4 linked regions of the Homo sapiens genome follow. The protein of the gene in region 3 interacts with the protein of the main gene of each other region in a pairwise test. Each region holds a gene or a part of one and is shown on either strand. Other genes may lie near its edges.

What was found. Proteins that work in one complex are often made in the same cells at the same time.
Region 1: the proteins of KIAA0408 (region 3) and NDUFS1 interact in binary tests that used the Homo sapiens proteins (3 or more experiments, as listed by UniProt).
Region 2: the proteins of KIAA0408 (region 3) and GFAP interact in binary tests that used the Homo sapiens proteins (3 or more experiments, as listed by UniProt).
Region 4: the proteins of KIAA0408 (region 3) and NUP58 interact in binary tests that used the Homo sapiens proteins (3 or more experiments, as listed by UniProt).

The regions. Positions count from the first base shown.
Region 1 is NC_000002.12:206,148,257-206,152,944, forward strand, and holds part of NDUFS1 (NADH-ubiquinone oxidoreductase 75 kDa subunit, mitochondrial isoform 1 precursor), read right to left. Parts: intron 4,255-4,688; coding exon 4,163-4,254; intron 1,670-4,162; coding exon 1,562-1,669; intron 841-1,561; coding exon 764-840; intron 1-763.
Region 2 is NC_000017.11:44,901,471-44,905,500, forward strand, and holds the end of GFAP (glial fibrillary acidic protein), read right to left. Parts: 3' UTR 3,602-4,030; coding exon of another isoform or gene 2,360-3,601; 3' UTR 1,689-2,359; downstream 1-1,688. Other genes in the region: DNAAF19 (dynein axonemal assembly factor 19), read left to right, coding at 50-182, 895-1,347; Ig-like V-type domain-containing protein FAM187A precursor, read left to right, coding at 2,360-3,601.
Region 3 is NC_000006.12:127,440,148-127,442,389, forward strand, and holds part of KIAA0408 (uncharacterized protein KIAA0408), read right to left. Parts: 3' UTR 1-2,242.
Region 4 is NC_000013.11:25,308,125-25,312,812, forward strand, and holds part of NUP58 (nucleoporin p58/p45), read left to right. Parts: intron 1-1,122; coding exon 1,123-1,158; intron 1,159-4,688. UniProt on the Homo sapiens protein: Component of the nuclear pore complex, a complex required for the trafficking across the nuclear membrane.

The DNA of each region.
Region 1 (4,688 bases), on a different chromosome or scaffold from region 3:
TGTATATTTGTTATACAATTAATAGTAATTTTACATTTAATATCAGAAATGCCAATTATCTATCATTGTGGTAATATTTTTTTTAAGAGACGGGGTCTTGCTATGTTGCCCAGGCTGGACTCGAGCTCCTGGGCTCAAGTGATCCTCCCGAGTATCATTCTGGTAGTATTAAACACACAATCTGGAAAATGCTTAGAGGAGCCTAGAATAAAGTATCATTAGAGAACATAGAAAATTATGATTTTTGGTCAGGTTTGGTGGCTCACGTCTGTAATCCCAGAACTATGGGAGGGAGGCTGAGGCAGGATGATCACCTGAGGCCAGGAGTTCAAGCCCAGCCTGGACAACATAGTGAGACCTCGTTTCAAAAAATAAAGAAAATTGTAACTTTTAACAATACCGAATGATCAAAAGTTGCTGAATGGTCCTCAGAAAATATTCACATTAATTCAAAATAAAAACAAACACAATCAATCCCAGTATAGTATAGTAGTAGCTTAGTAAGTCCAGATTCACCCTTCTTCACAAGTTGAGCAAGTTACTAAAGAAGGATTTTTAATGCTGATCCTAAAGCTCAATACCATAAACTCCTGACTTCACCTTCTCTACTATGTAGTACTCACTTCTATTGCTCCTAGAAGCTGAGCACACCAACTTCTTCCGAGTTTGATATTAAATTCTTAATCTATGGGAAGGTCTAAATACCAAAATGTGCAATTTTCTGCTTTATGAAAGGGTACTACATTGAATAACAATAAAGTACCTGGCTTTTTTGGATTTTTCTGAGTTTGTTAGGATATTCCAACCCTTCATTACTGGCATGGCACAAGCAGCTACAACCTGGGATTTCAATGAAAAAAAAAAATGTGTATTTGTATTTATTTGTGATTACAAGCAACTCAATATATAAAAATGTTAAATTATATAAAAACATTAAATTATACATTTGATAACAGGCAAAGAATAGGGTATTTTTTAAAACTGAATTTTGTTAAGTTTTCATATTCATAATACGATGATCTAGTACTTTGCATTTATCTCAGAAATAAAACATCCTGGTTTTTAGGTTTATTCTAATAGTCAATGCAATTTTTTATTCTGCTCTGAAACAGAACACCAAATAACTGCTTTGATTAGCAGGCACTATTGAATAAAAAAATTGCATACACCAAAATGAAATTAAACTACTGAAAGTGAACTTCTTCCCTGCAACCCTTTTCTCTACTAAAAATGGCAGGGCGTCAGCACTTTTAATGTGCTACTTGGCAACTCTACATCCTGGTTATATATTATACAGCCATTTGGAAATACTGACAACTATAAATCACCTTTAATTTCTAGATATGTTACAATTATATGACATGTGTTTGTAAAGCACTTCTATCTATGTGTTTCCAGTTTTGAAATGAAGAGAATCAATTGTACAAAAGAATTAAATTTATAGATAGAAGTAAAGAGGGCTAGGTTCTCCACTACGATATTGATTCTAAATAAAGTTTGCTGCAAGATTTAAAGTTTTCTACCTTCTACAGCATGGTGTAGAATTTTAGGTATCAAGTACCTTAGGGGCTTTCTCAATTTCAACAAGGCACATCCTGCAGTTTCCAGCAACAGACAACCTTTCATGATAACAGAATCGAGGGATCTGCATGCCAACCTTCTCACAAGCCTAGAAGTAAAAAAAAAAAAAAAAAAAAAAAAAGCATTAGAATAACCTGACTTCACTGCTGTTATTGCTGAAACACACACATACAGCATCTTATTACTTCTATCTATCTATCTATCTATCTATCTATCTTAATTCATTCTTATTTCAGTCCCTTTCTTTGCCTTTGATTCTAACCCGTCTCCTCTGAAGCTGCCTCAGAGGATCTCAGGATCCTTGGCGTGACTTCACCTTATGTGGAAGAAACTGGATAAAGTATCCTTCCACTGTGCTGAAGACTTGACTTCCCACATCCATTTTGAACCATTGTCCACAATGTCCCCAGTGGTTTCATACCTGGACTTCTTCTTTGCCTCGCTCCCCTCCTTTGGATTAGAGATTTCACTACACATTATCTAGCTGGCTATCTGTCTTTGGCTCCTATATGCTACCCAGGACTCACCTCCCACTGTGGCTGAAGGTTTTCCCAGTTTCTGTTTGCCCAGTAAGGGGGATTATCCCTGCTCTGCCAATTATCACCTACCCTGCTCTGCAATTTCTTCCTCCTTTTAGTCTATAAACATGTTCAAATTTCCTCTAGAGTTAGTTCCTCATCCTCAGCCTTCATTCTAAAGCAATCTCATCAATTTCCAGTGTTTAAACTATTTAGTTAGCAAAAATGTGTTGAGTCTTTCCTTTGTGCAGGATGCAGGTATAGTAGTGAAAAAGACAGATAGTGTCCCAGCCTTCATCCTAGCTGACATTCCTTATGCTGATTATGTCCAAACCTTAATCTGCAGCCATGTTAGACCTCCACTTCTCCAAGCTTCAGATTTACAGGTATTTGCATGTGTATGTTCCACAGACAGCTTAAATTCAAATGATTTCTCTCCCCTCTATACACTCCAAAATAACCTAACAAATGCAGAAAACCACAAGAATTCCTCCGGTCTCTTTGAGTTCTAAAGAACTATTTGTCTGTGGCTCTACTGAAACTTCTTTTGTGTTTTTTTTTTCTCACTGTTAAAGCAATATTGGGAAGTTCTGTACGACGGGGGAAAAAATCCCTCGGGTCTTCATCATTCCTGAAGGCCTGTCTACATTTCATTCTCCCTTGAATCTACTCTCTTGTTTTCATTCCCATTGACACTATCTATTTTAGGGCTTTTGTAGTATCCTGTCCCAATAATACAAAATGCTTTTTCCTTGTCTCTTATTCCAGTCTTGCTATTCTCCAAATGATCATCCTCTACAGTCGCTGTCACCCTGTTTAAATAGGCAACAAAACTCCTGATGGATCAAAATATAAGCTCTTCTGCATAGCAGATACTGTATTTCATGACTGGACCTTCCCTTCCTCAATAACTTGATTTCCTGTGATCTCATCTTCTACTTATACCTTATGTTTCATCAATATTAAACTATTTGAAGCTTTCAAAATATGACAAGCTATCTGCCTTAACTTTTTCCATAGGAAATGCAAGCATGTCGTTCTTGTTCACAATATGAACACACCTGTTCATCCTTTAACACCTCCTCAGGGATGACCTGAGGCACCCAATACCTCTTTCTACTACCTCCTATCCCTGCCACAACTTTTCACTGTACCTTGAACATACATTTATATCATATTTTGTGCTTTCATGTCTGTGACTGGCAGATAGTCTAGAAATGACTGCTAAAATGAACAAAGAACATTTAGATCTGTGACAACTTACAAATGGAGTGAAGCATGACTTCTCTATGACCAATTTATTATTTCTGGAGGAATATGAAGAAATATTTAGAGCATGAATGTAAGCACATGCTACCCTCCATTTACCTGCTTTGTAGGATATATTCCTATGAATATTACTAACCACAGAAAGGTTATATGAAAATGAAAAGCATTAAGCAGGCCCACAACAAATGGAGGTTATTTTTTCACAAACTTACCTATAGTAACTAATTTAAGTTACTTCAAATTTCTTTTCTTTTTTTTTGAGACAGAGTCTTGCTCTGTTGCCCAGGCTGGAGTGCAGTGGCACAATCTCGGCTCACTGCAACCTCCGCCTCCTGGGTTCAAGCAATTCTCCTGCCTCAGCCTCTCGAGTAGCTGGGATTACAGGTGCGCGCCACGATGCGCAGCTAATTTTTTGTATTTTTAGTAGAGAAGGGGTTTCACAGTGCTGGCCAGGCTGGTCTAGAACTCCTGAATGATCCGCCCGCCTCGGCCTCCCAAAGTGCTGGGATTACAGGCATGAGCCACTGCGCTCGGACTTCAAATTTCTTAATGGGTATTCATTTGGAATGAAAAGTGAAACAAAAGAACTACCATAATTCACTAAAAATGCCACAAACAAATATATGATAGCTCACTTTGAAGTGCCAAGATTTAAAATGAAATAATTTTAATATAACTTTGCTGTGTATAGTTATTTTAAAGAATTATTTACTAATAATCAGTATAAAGGAAATAAATTAGTATTTTTAAAAAAATCAGAACACACACACAAAATAGTTAGAATGTATGCCTACTTGGAGGACGGTCGTTCCCGGTTCCACCATGACAGACTGACCATCAACAAATACTTCAATCAAGTTGCTTGCTGCTGTGGCAGTTGTTCGAACTGACCATCAAAGATATTGAAGCGAAAAACAGATTAACAGTTTATTATAGCAGATGATAATGGATGAATTGACTCTAACTACAAACCTAAAATTTTTCATTCCTTATTATTCCTCTGTATTGCTCTGGATGCAAACTTATGGTTGTCTACTTTTGATAGCAGAGTAGTTTAAACTGAAACTTCTTTCTTCTTCTTTTTTTTTTTTTTTTTTTGAGAGGGAGTCTTGCCCTGTCACCCAGGCTGGAGTGCAGTGGCGCCATCTTGGCTCACTACAACCTCCACCTCCCCGGTTCAAGCGATTCTCCTGCCTCAGCCTTCCGAGTAGCTGGGATTACAGGAACTCACCACCACGCCCGCTAATTTTTGTATTTTTAGTAGAGACAGGGTTTCGCCATATTGGCCAGGATGGTCTCAAACTCCTGACCTCAAGTAAT
Region 2 (4,030 bases), on a different chromosome or scaffold from region 3:
ACAGACACAGCATTAAGTCCATTGCCTAATTTCTGTCCTTTGCCTACAGGGGTATTGTCCTTGCATCACATCTGAAGCCACTGGAGCGGAAGGATAAGATGGGAGGAAAGAGAACTGTGCCCTGGAACTGTCACACTATTCAGGGAAGGACCTTCCAGGATGTGGCCACTGAAATCTCCCCGGTAGGTGAGGCCCTGCCCCTTTAGTCCAGCAGGATTCTCTGCCCTAAAGCTTCAATCCTGTTTTTTCATTTTGTTTTGTTTTGTTTTGTTTTTTTAACCACACATACCTCTTCTTTATTTGTCATGTTAAACCAACAGAGATAGGTTTCTGCCTCCAATCCCAGAAAGAAAAACAAACAGCAGATGGCAAAGCTGAGTTGAAGTGGGCAGAATGAGTCAGAAAGTTGGGCTAGGAAGGTCGGCTTCCCTTAGTCCTTTGACTTTCATTCTCAGATCAGAATTGGGATGCTCTGCCTCTGGGTTGTATGGTGTCTAGTGTAATGATCCTGTGGCAGTGTTGAGAGAGAGACCCCAACATTCAGATCCTTGAGTTCCTTTCTCTCTTCCTGAGATTTCCAATCAACCCATCCACCCGACTTACAGTAAACCCTGACTTACTCTTGAAGACCAGAGCTATGTCTCCATTCATGAGTAGGAAAATTCCAGTATAAATGAGAATCTCAAATCATGGCGTGGATTCCTTGGGGCCCTCCCTGTTTCATCCCCAGTTTCCTCATCTGAAAATGAGGCCGCCAAGGACCACAGCTTTCCCAGTGCTCAGACAGTAGTGAGATGAAGACAGTAAGATGAAGAGCTACAGGCTCCCCTCCCTGTCACTGTTGCAGAACAGCTGGAAGAGCTCCTGACTCCCTTTCCTTCCTTTGTGGTCCAGGAGAAAGCCCCCCTCCAGCCCGAGACGTCTGCTGACTTCTATCGTGATTGGCGACGACACTTGCCAAGTGGGCCAGAGCGCTACCAGGCTCTACTGCAGCTTGGGGGTCCAAGGCTCGGCTGCCTCTTCCAGACAGATGTGGGATTTGGACTTCTTGGGGAGCTGCTGGTGGCACTGGCTGATCACGTGGGGCCGGCTGACCGGGCAGCGGTGCTGGGGATCCTATGCAGCCTGGCGAGCACTGGGCGCTTCACCCTGAACCTAAGCCTGCTGAGCCGGGCAGAGAGAGAGAGCTGCAAGGGCTTGTTTCAGAAGCTGCAAGCCATGGGCAACCCCAGATCCGTGAAGGAGGGGCTCAGCTGGGAGGAGCAGGGTCTGGAGGAGCAGTCTGGTGGGCTCCAGGAGGAGGAGAGGCTCCTGCAGGAGCTGCTGGAGCTGTACCAGGTTGACTGATGCGGCAAGCTACCCTCAGAGGTCCCAGTGGTCACTGGAGGCAGTTTTTTGGTTGTTGTCTTGGGGGTTCTGCAGGACCATAATAAGAAACCCACACCTGGTTCCCTTCTCAACTTGGAATTTTCAGAGCAAAAACAGGAATCAAGTCTTCCCCACTTCTCCAGTCCCTCAGTGTCTCGCTGTTTTGAACTGTGTGTATCCATGGACAGTCAAGAGCTCAGGAAGTTGAGAGCGGTTTTGTTTCCCACCCTTAGAGTCTGCCAAGCCTCTAGCCCACTGGCCTTGAGAGATGAGTGTGTGCCCAACCAAATGCTGGCTATACCAGTTACAGCCTCCACTCATAAAAGGGAAAAAGCAAAATCTTTATGGTAAACAAACACTGATCTCCACAGCTCTTAACAAGAATGTTTATAGCCCCAAACCAATGAATGGACATGTAATCAACAAATGATCAAATACTACATCATTTGAGGTGTTGAATTTTCCCCTAGAGACTCAGTTCTTGTGCAGGTTGGGCCTGGGAAAGTCCCAAGCCATCAGCTCAGGTCCAGCCAGCCTCCCGGATGGCCAGATATGCAGGAGGGTGGGTTTCCTTCATCCCCCAGGTTGATGAAAGACTTTTCCACCAGGCTGGCAGGGCAGGGCCTGGAGCACTGAGGCAGAGATCTCCCTGCCCGAGCACCTCGGCCCGCCCTTCTCATTCCGGTTTCCTTTGACCCATTCTTGGGTGAGCGCCAGTGTTCTAGAAAGGGGAGTAAAGGCCAGGTTCTAGAATGGCTTTCCCCCCCCACCCTGAGATCAGGTCTGGAATGTTAGAAGGGCATCTTGTACATCCACTGGGAATAAATTGCCTTGCACTTGGCGGCTTCCTCTGCAGATTGTTGCTGCTTTTCCTGGCTGCATAATCCTTTCCTCATCTAGAGGCTTCCGCTTAGCAGAGCTTTCTAGGAGCCCTATGAGCCTTTAATGCCCTGGTTTTGCCCTGCCCCTCTGACCCCTGCCTCCTTCAGGTATGCACCTGGCCCTCACCACTGTGCTCCTGTGGGCATGGGGGCTCCAGGCCTTTGAAATTGTGGAGAAGGAAAACATTTTTCAGAGGACCCCCTGCCCTGCTTTCCTGATGTTTGAAAATGCAGCCTACCTGGCCGACATGAGCTTTGAGCTTCCCTGTCACTGCAAACCCGAAGAGGTGCCAGCTGTAGTCTGGTTCTACCAAAAGCACCTAGGTAGCAGCCACACCAAAGTGCTGACGGACTTTGATGGGCGGGTGCTGACGGAGGCAGCCCAGGTACGTGTGGGCAGCGACATGCTGACCCGCTTCAGCATCCGCATGTTCAGCTTGTTGGTTTTCAGGGCTCAGTCTGAGGACTCAGGCCTGTACTTCTGCGGCACCCGCAAGGGGGACTACTTTTACGCCTACGATGTGGACATCCAGAACAGTGAGGGAATGGTGGCCACTTTCCAGGACAAGGGCCAGGAGCCCTTTGCAGATGAATACTATGGGCACCTCCATGTCTTCACCACCTTCTGGGAATGGACCCCCTGTGACCGCTGCGGAGTGCGTGGGGAGCAGTGGCGCATCGGCCTCTGCTACCTGCAGAGCCCAGACCTCTCCCCACGCTACCTCAAGGCCGTGCCCGATGTGGTGTCTTGTGGCTCAAGGGCTGTGCCAAGGAAGCTGCGGACCAAGGCCAGGGACCACACGCCTGAGGTGCTGGTTCGGAGCTGCTTAGTACCCTGTGAGAAGACAAAGACCATCCGGGAGGGCGTGCTGGCCATCATTAACTATGTGTCCAAAGTGGGCAGCCGGCCCTGGGTGCCCCAGGTGCCCATTCAGTTCCACCAGCAGAGACTGGGCCATGGACTCATCATCTCCTGTCCTGGGGCCCGGCCAGAGCATGCAGTGGCCTGGGACAAAGACCGCCAGCACCTCTACCGCACACAGTACCTGAAGGGTGTCAACAGGTCCATGAGGGTGTTCATTGACCACGGCAACCAGCTCCACATCCGCTTCACCCAGCTGGATGACCGGGGCATCTACTATTGCTGGAGGCAGGGTGTGCTAGTTGCTGGCTTCCGGCTGGGTGTGACATCTCATGGGCACTACCCAGCCTCGTTCTCAGATCCTGAGACTCGCTCGGCTGTGGAGCTCACCCTGATAGGCTACCTGCTCATCACAGCAGTCTTTGTCACCATTCACTTCTGTCGTTGCTGCTGCTACTTATTTCACTGTTGTCCCAGCTTCTCCCCCTAGGAGCTCTCTTCAGCTCTGAAGACCAGTTGTCCTTCAATGTGTTTGTTAAATGATACCAGATGTCTCTGGGTGGGTACCCTGGGTTGGGACAGGTGGTAGGAACATGTGGACAAATCTGTTACAGCCTGCTCCCCATTTTCATGGGCAGGTCTGGGACCTGATCTGAGAAGTGGAGGGGCCTGAGGCTGGTGGGAGATTGGGGACTGAGCTCAGGATGGAAGTAGGGCACATGTGTTTCCTGACTTCACATTTAGGTCAGAGAAGGAAAGTGTGAACTCAGATTTATCCAGTGGTAAACACTGATCAGTGTTGAATCATGTTTGAGCTGCTTTGCTTTCTTGCCTATGAAGATTGTGCTGGTTGAGTTGCAGGTAGCAGGGAGAGGAAGGAAGAAAAGAGTGGAGGGAGCTGGTGTATGTCCTCTTTGGC
Region 3 (2,242 bases):
TAAAACAAAAAATTATTTTCTATGATGAATATGCATACAATAAAAATGACGAGAAATCATTTTTGGTACTTGTCTGAAGAACTCATCCCCAATTTTTGCCTTTTTTGCTTTGCAAAGCACATTTTCTTGTAGGAACATATTTTCAGGGTGAGATGAACAAGTCATAGTTATAAGTTCTTTTTTTTTTTTTTTTTTGAGACAGAGTCTCACTCTGTCACCCAGGCTGGAGTGCAGTGGCGCGATCTCTGCTCACTGCAAGCTCTGCCTCCCGGGTTCATGCCATTCTCCTGCCTCAGCCTCCCGAGCAGCTGGGACTACAGGTGACCACCACAATGCCTGGCTAATTTTTTGTATTTTTAGCAGAGAGGGGGTTTCACCGTGATGAAACCAGGATGGTCTCCATCTCCTGACCTCGTGATCCCCCCACCTTGGCCTCCCAAAGTGCTGGGATTACAGGCAAGAGCCACCGCGCCCACCAGTTCTAAGTTCCGATACATGTACTTGCTACTTAAGAAAAACATGCCGAATTTAAAGCAAATAGTACTGTAATAAAAAAATCTGATTTTCCTGAAAATGGTTTAATTTTATGATGTAAATGCAAATCTTAGAAGTAAAAACTTTTTTCAAAGAAGACTTTTATCAGACTCAATTAGCAGTTAAATGGGTAGAGAGAGGATGTCAGTGTACGAGAAGCCATATGGAGTTTTGGGTGGCCAGGAGCAGGAAGTCAGGCAGGTTTGGCTTCAGTTGTACTACCTAGAGATATTTTGGAAGAAGCTAGAGTGAACTGTGTACATATATGAGTTTAGATTTCATAAGACACTTAGCTTTACTGGAGTTCACTGCAGAAAATGAGGGAAAGAAAAATGTTCTCGATGTATACAAATGCCACAGACAGTTGTTTTTACACCTACTTTATTTGATAGCTTCTAATGGCTGAAGGAGATTTCAATATCAAGTAGTTGTTTGTCACAAATGTGCCTAAAAATAACTTTAAAGATCTTTGTAGGGAAGCAGAAACTCTTAAGTCCAGATGTTTTCTCAGGATAACTAAACCTGGTAAAATCACCTATATAGAAGTAAATAATATTTTATGGCCACATCTGCAAAATGAAATATGATCATCTTCATTGTCGATATAAAAACAAATGAAAGTTATGGGTAATTTTTGATAAAATGAATTATACAAAGCATCATTTATATTTTTATATTTGGCTTTGGGACATAAGGCAATATGGAGAACTTATGTGACACTGACACAAACACACACACACACACACACACACAAACTCAAGTACTCCTCTCTGCCTCATCCTTATTCCTTTCTGAGATCAGCCCATAATATCAGTAATCCTCTGCTGAACTAAAATAATATTTTTGCTCCAAAAGTCTGCTAGGGAAAACATCTATTAATATATGTTTTTAAATCAAATATTTCCAGAAATGCTTACAAGTCCCTTTAAATCTAGCAATGATAGCATAATAAAGGGCATATTCTAGGGAAGAAAATGCCCACCTAAAGTAGAAATTTACCAGTTAAAAATCACAAAACATCAAAAACTATTTTCAAGGATTATTTCCATTTACCTAATAGGTTTTTCCATTTAAAAGTTATAAAATATTTAAAAAGAGAAAACAGAACATTCAAATAACCTTAGTTTTTCAGTTTTACAATCAAGGAGTTGGACTAGATGCTATTTTTTTTTTCTCAGCTCTAACTATAATTTTAGTCAACATAAGAAGACGTTAAAATGTGTCCCACTGGTTCATTCAACTGTTAATAGAAAAAAGTGGCTTAAAATTGTGAAGTCTGAAAGTATAGCCATTCTAATTTACAGATAACAAAGGCAAGTCCTAGGAAGAAAAGTGACCACCCAAGGGCATCCATCCATTCAGAGATCAAGCAATGTCACTGTTTTCAAATCTGCCTGATCATCAATATTTTGCTTTGTTTTGTTTTGTTTTATTAATGGTTCTGGAGTCCCAGTCCCTACCCCTGGAAATTTTGCTTTAGTAATATGGGGTGAGATCAGAAATTTCATTTTTTAAAGAGATCCTCAATATTCTAAGGAACCACAGATCATACCAGACTACTTGGGATACACTGGTGGAGAGGAACAGATAGGTTGCACAGTCCTTGGGCAGGCTCTCCATTGTCACACAACAGCATTTTCCTAACAGGTCCGTCATTTTATGACCCAGGGTTCCTCTTTCCTGGTGTTTTCTCCCCTCTAGCTGGAAA
Region 4 (4,688 bases), on a different chromosome or scaffold from region 3:
ATTGACTGTCATCTACTCTGATATAACGAAGGAAAACATACAAATATTAATTTAAATTTTTGGATTATATAATGTAGTGTTTTTCCTTAGTGGAGATTGTGGTTTAAGCCAGCTTTATCAATTTGGAACATTAACATACGTGAGATAATCAGCACCCTTACTGTAACATAATTTCTATTTTTTTTCTTTTTTTAGATACACAGTCTTGCTCTGTTGTCTAGGCTGGAGTGCAGTGGCATGATCATGGCTCACTGTAGCCTTGCAGCCTCTCGGGCCCAAGTGATCCTCCCACCTCAGCCTCCTGAGTAGATGGGACCACACGTGTGCACCACCACGCCTGGCTAATTTTTTTTTTTTTTTTTTTACTTTTTTACTTTTTGTAGAGAAGAGGTCTCCTCCTGGTCTTAAATTCCTGAGGTCAAGTGATCCTCCTGCTTTGGCCTCTCAGAGTGCTGGGATTATAGGCCTGAGTTACCATGCCTGGTCTATAATTTACGTTCCTAAGAGATGTTTTACATTTTTGTATTATTAAAACAAAGTGGGAAAAGGGCAATAGGTAAAGGACTTGAAGGTTTCAAAACAATAGAAAGTTTTTGTTTTTAGTACAGCTGGAAAAATAATGTTTCACTGGAGCTGACCATTTAAAAAGTTTGCTTCTTTATTTACCCCTTATTTTCTACCCTTAGAGCCTCTTGGTCATTCTTACTACTTTTTGCGTTGATCTTCCAGCTTTGAGTGCAGCACATTTCACAGCCACATCTAGAAAATGGAAGAACTACAGGAATAAATATGAGCAGATTAGTCAGTGAGCTGCTTGAGACAGCTCAGTATAGCATTTTGTTTGGAGTTGCTTTTTTTGGTCTTGCTTAATTTTGTTATAAGCAATAGTTATTTGCATTTTATAAATTTTATTCCTTAATCAAATTATGTATGGCTTGTAATATGAAAACCAGTGCTATGGGAAAAATGCGTGATTAGTGGCAGATACTATGATATGTATTGTTCTAATTAGAAGTGTTGTCACTCCCTGAGGGTGATTTTAAGTCTTTCCCTTATGACAGGTAAACCTAAAGAATGTCATCTTCATTGATGATTAAATTTTATTTCTCTTTTTGTCCCCAGGAATAGCAACAACTATAACTACAGGATTAACTCTGGGTAAGAATTTTTGAGGAAAGATCCCAGCTCTGTGGTCTTCTAATAATTTTAATAAATTGAGTGATCTTTCTACTCTTCTCTCTTCTAATATTTCACAGAGCTGGAGTATAGAAAAAAGTGTGTATCACAGATGGTGACTTATCGGAGAACCTTTCAGTATTTGAGTAGTGAAAAAAAGGAATGACTTCGTAGAGTACTTTTATAATTCAGAAAAGTATTTTAAATGCAGAAATTGTTTTTAATGTGGAAGTTTATTTCATATTACTTTTTTAGTCATTTGACTCCAGTTAGTGGAAAAAACACCAAACTTTAAGCCAGAAATTTTGGAATTAAGCCTCTAAAATACTTGTGAGGCCTTAGGTAATGTTTGGGGCTTTTAGTTATCTATAAAATTGAGGGTATTGAACTAATATCCAAAGACATAATACTTTCTGTAGTGTTAACGCTAAAGGGAATGTGAATAACTAGGGTTTCAGCCAGCTTTCAATCTGGATGGCAGTAAACAATGTGAAAGGAAAGGAAAAGGAAATGAAAGAACATTCAGAAGCTCTTAAATTGAATTTTAAGTTAAAGGAAAGGAAAAGGAAATGAAAGAACATTCAGAAGCTCTTAAATTGAGTTTTAAGTTAAGGATTGGCAGACTTTCTTCATTTGGATGCTACACCTGTTATTAACAGAAAACAACACATCTGTTTATCAGCAAAGTTTTGGACTGGATCAGCTGCAAACACAAGCAAGTGAATCTTCTTGTTTTCTTTTTTGCTTTTTTTTCCCCTATCAGACAGGTTCTTCCTCTGTTGCCCAGGCTGGAGTGCAGTGGCACCATCACAGCTCACTGCAACCTCAAACTCTTGGGCTCAAGCGATCTTCTCTGGGGTTCCCAAGTAGCTAGGACTACAGGCACATACCACAACCCTTGGCTAATTTTTTTTTTTTTTTTTTTTTTTTTTTTTTAGAGACGGAATTTTGCTCTTGTTGCCCAGGCTGGAGTGCAATGGTGCAATCTTGGCTCACCGCAACTTCCGCCTCCTGGGTTCAAGTGATTCTCTTGCCTCAGCTTCCTGAGTAGCTGGGATTACAGGCATGTGCCACCACGCCTGGCTAATTTTGTATTTTTAGTAGAGATGGGGTTTCTCCATGTTGGTCAGGCTGGTCTCGAACTCCCAACCTCAGGTGATCCACCCGCCTTGGCCTTCCGAAGTGCTGGGATTACAGGCGTGAGCCACTGTGCCTGGCCTTTTTTTTTTTTTTTTTTTTTTTGGTAGAGACAAGGTCTCAGTATGTTGCCTAGGCTGGTCATGGACTCCTAGCCTCAAGCCACGTGCCCTCTTTGGCCTCCCAAAGTGCTGGGATTACAGGCTTGAGCCACACCAAGCCTGAGTCTTGTTTTCTGAGGTTGTAACCCCATACGTGATTTCAAAGCACTGCACTCTGGCAGGAACTTCTAGTTGTGATCAGGGCAATCCAGAAGCATAGTTTCTGGCTTCTTTTCTCTCAGTGATTTCAGGTTAAGTCATGCAGGTCATTCATACATTTCTTTATTTAATATTGTTTGAGCAGTTACTACTTCCTAACCATGCAGCCTTGTGTCTACATAATGCCTTGAACATTGAATATTGTGGCACTGCTGGTGAGGATGGTCCTTGATGATGACATTGGGAACTGCTAAGGGTTGGAGCAAGACAGTCAGTCTGTTGTGAGGTGAAAGGGATAGGCAGGTATATTAACATGTTCTTGTATAATCCGATAAATGTCCTAAAAGATGTAGAGGCACCATGAAAGGCAGAGGAAGAAAACAGTATGGTTTACTTTATGGGCAGGAAGCACTTCAGAGAGAGGAGTGGCAAGTGCAAAGGCCCAGTCATAAAAGCGTTCTGGGAAATATGAAGTATTTTGGTTTTGGAGCTTAGAAATCAGAGGTGGAAATGGTGGGCAGAGTTGAGAATTGAGGAGCAGGTTGGGACCAGATAGGAAAGGGAGGTATATGTCGTGCCTTTAGACTCTATTTTAAAGACAATCTAGAGCTAATAGGAACCTTAAATTGGGCAGAATCACCAGGATATTTGTGGGGGTTTTTTGTTTGTGTTTTCTTTTTGTTTTTGTTTTTTATGAGACGGAGTTTTGGTCTTGTTGCACAGGCTGGAGTGCAATGGCGTGATCTCAGCTCACCACAACCTCTGCCTCCCAGGTTCAAACAATTCTCCTGTCTCAGCCTCCCGAGTAGCTGGGATTACAGGCATGCGCCACCACGCCCAGCTAATTTTGTATTTTTAGTAGAAACGGGGTTTCACCATGTTGGCCAGGCTGGTCTCGAACTCCTGACCTAAGGTGATCTGCCCACTTTGGCTTCCCAAAGTGCTGGGATTACAGACGTGAGCCACGGCACCTGTCTTTTTTTTTTTTTTTTTTTTTAAGGTAACCAAGATAATTTTAAGAATAGATTAGAGGTTAGAAGAGACTGATACCAGAGAAATAAATGCTGTTGTAGTAGTTCTTAAGAGAGATATGGCCTAAGCTAAGGTTTTTAAGGATGCTTGTAGTACAGGATATTTCTGAAGTAGGATCGACAGGATTTGTAACTAATGGAGTACAGGAGAAGGAAAGGATGTCAAGGATGACTGGTTTCTGGCTTAAGCAATTGAACTGAGCAAGGTTGGAGATATAGCAAAAAATGTTTGTGGTGAGATATGTAGGAGGCCAAAGGGACATCAAGATAGAACTAGACAATGAGGACTTAGGTAAATGTCAGTTTAGACTTAATCACCTGTAGGAGAAATGATGAAAGTGGGTGTGTCATTGGGGAAGTAAGGAGGTAGGAATGGAACTCTAGGAAGTGTCAGTTAAGACATGAACAGAGGAAAGAGAGCTACAGAAAAAAAGGACTGAAAAGGAATAGGGAGACAGCTGGGGGCTGACAGAGACACAAGGGCCAGAAGAAAGGAATAGAGAATGGTTATTGATAGAGTATTAGAGAGGAGGGACCATTTTTCTGCTGAGAGGGAAAGGAGGAGGATAAATGCTGCATTAGAGGTAAATCTAGGAGTAGAATAAAAATTGATATGTTACATCGATTGGATTTTCTTTTCTGTTTTTTTATTTTTTGAGACAGAGTCTCACTCTTGTCTCCCAGGCTGGAGTGCAGTGGCACGATTTCAGCTCACTGCAACCTCCCCCTCCCAGGTTCAAGTGACTCTCGTACCTCAGCCTCCCGAGTAGCTGGGGTTACAAGTGTGCACCACCACATTGAGCTAATTTTTGTATTTTAGCTAGAGGCAGGGTTTCACCGTGTTGGCCAGGCTGGTCTTGAACTCCTGACCTCAAGCAATCTGCCCATCTTGGCCTCCCAAAGTTTTGGGATCACAGGCGTGAGCCACTGTACCTGGCCATTCTTTTGTTTTTCTTAAAGAGCCATCTTTTTTGTGTTCACCATGGTTTAGTCTCAACTTTTACATATTTTCTCTCACAGATACACCCTTCTTCTATTGGCAAAAGGTAGTATCATGAACTTTTAAGGATCCTTATTGAAACCA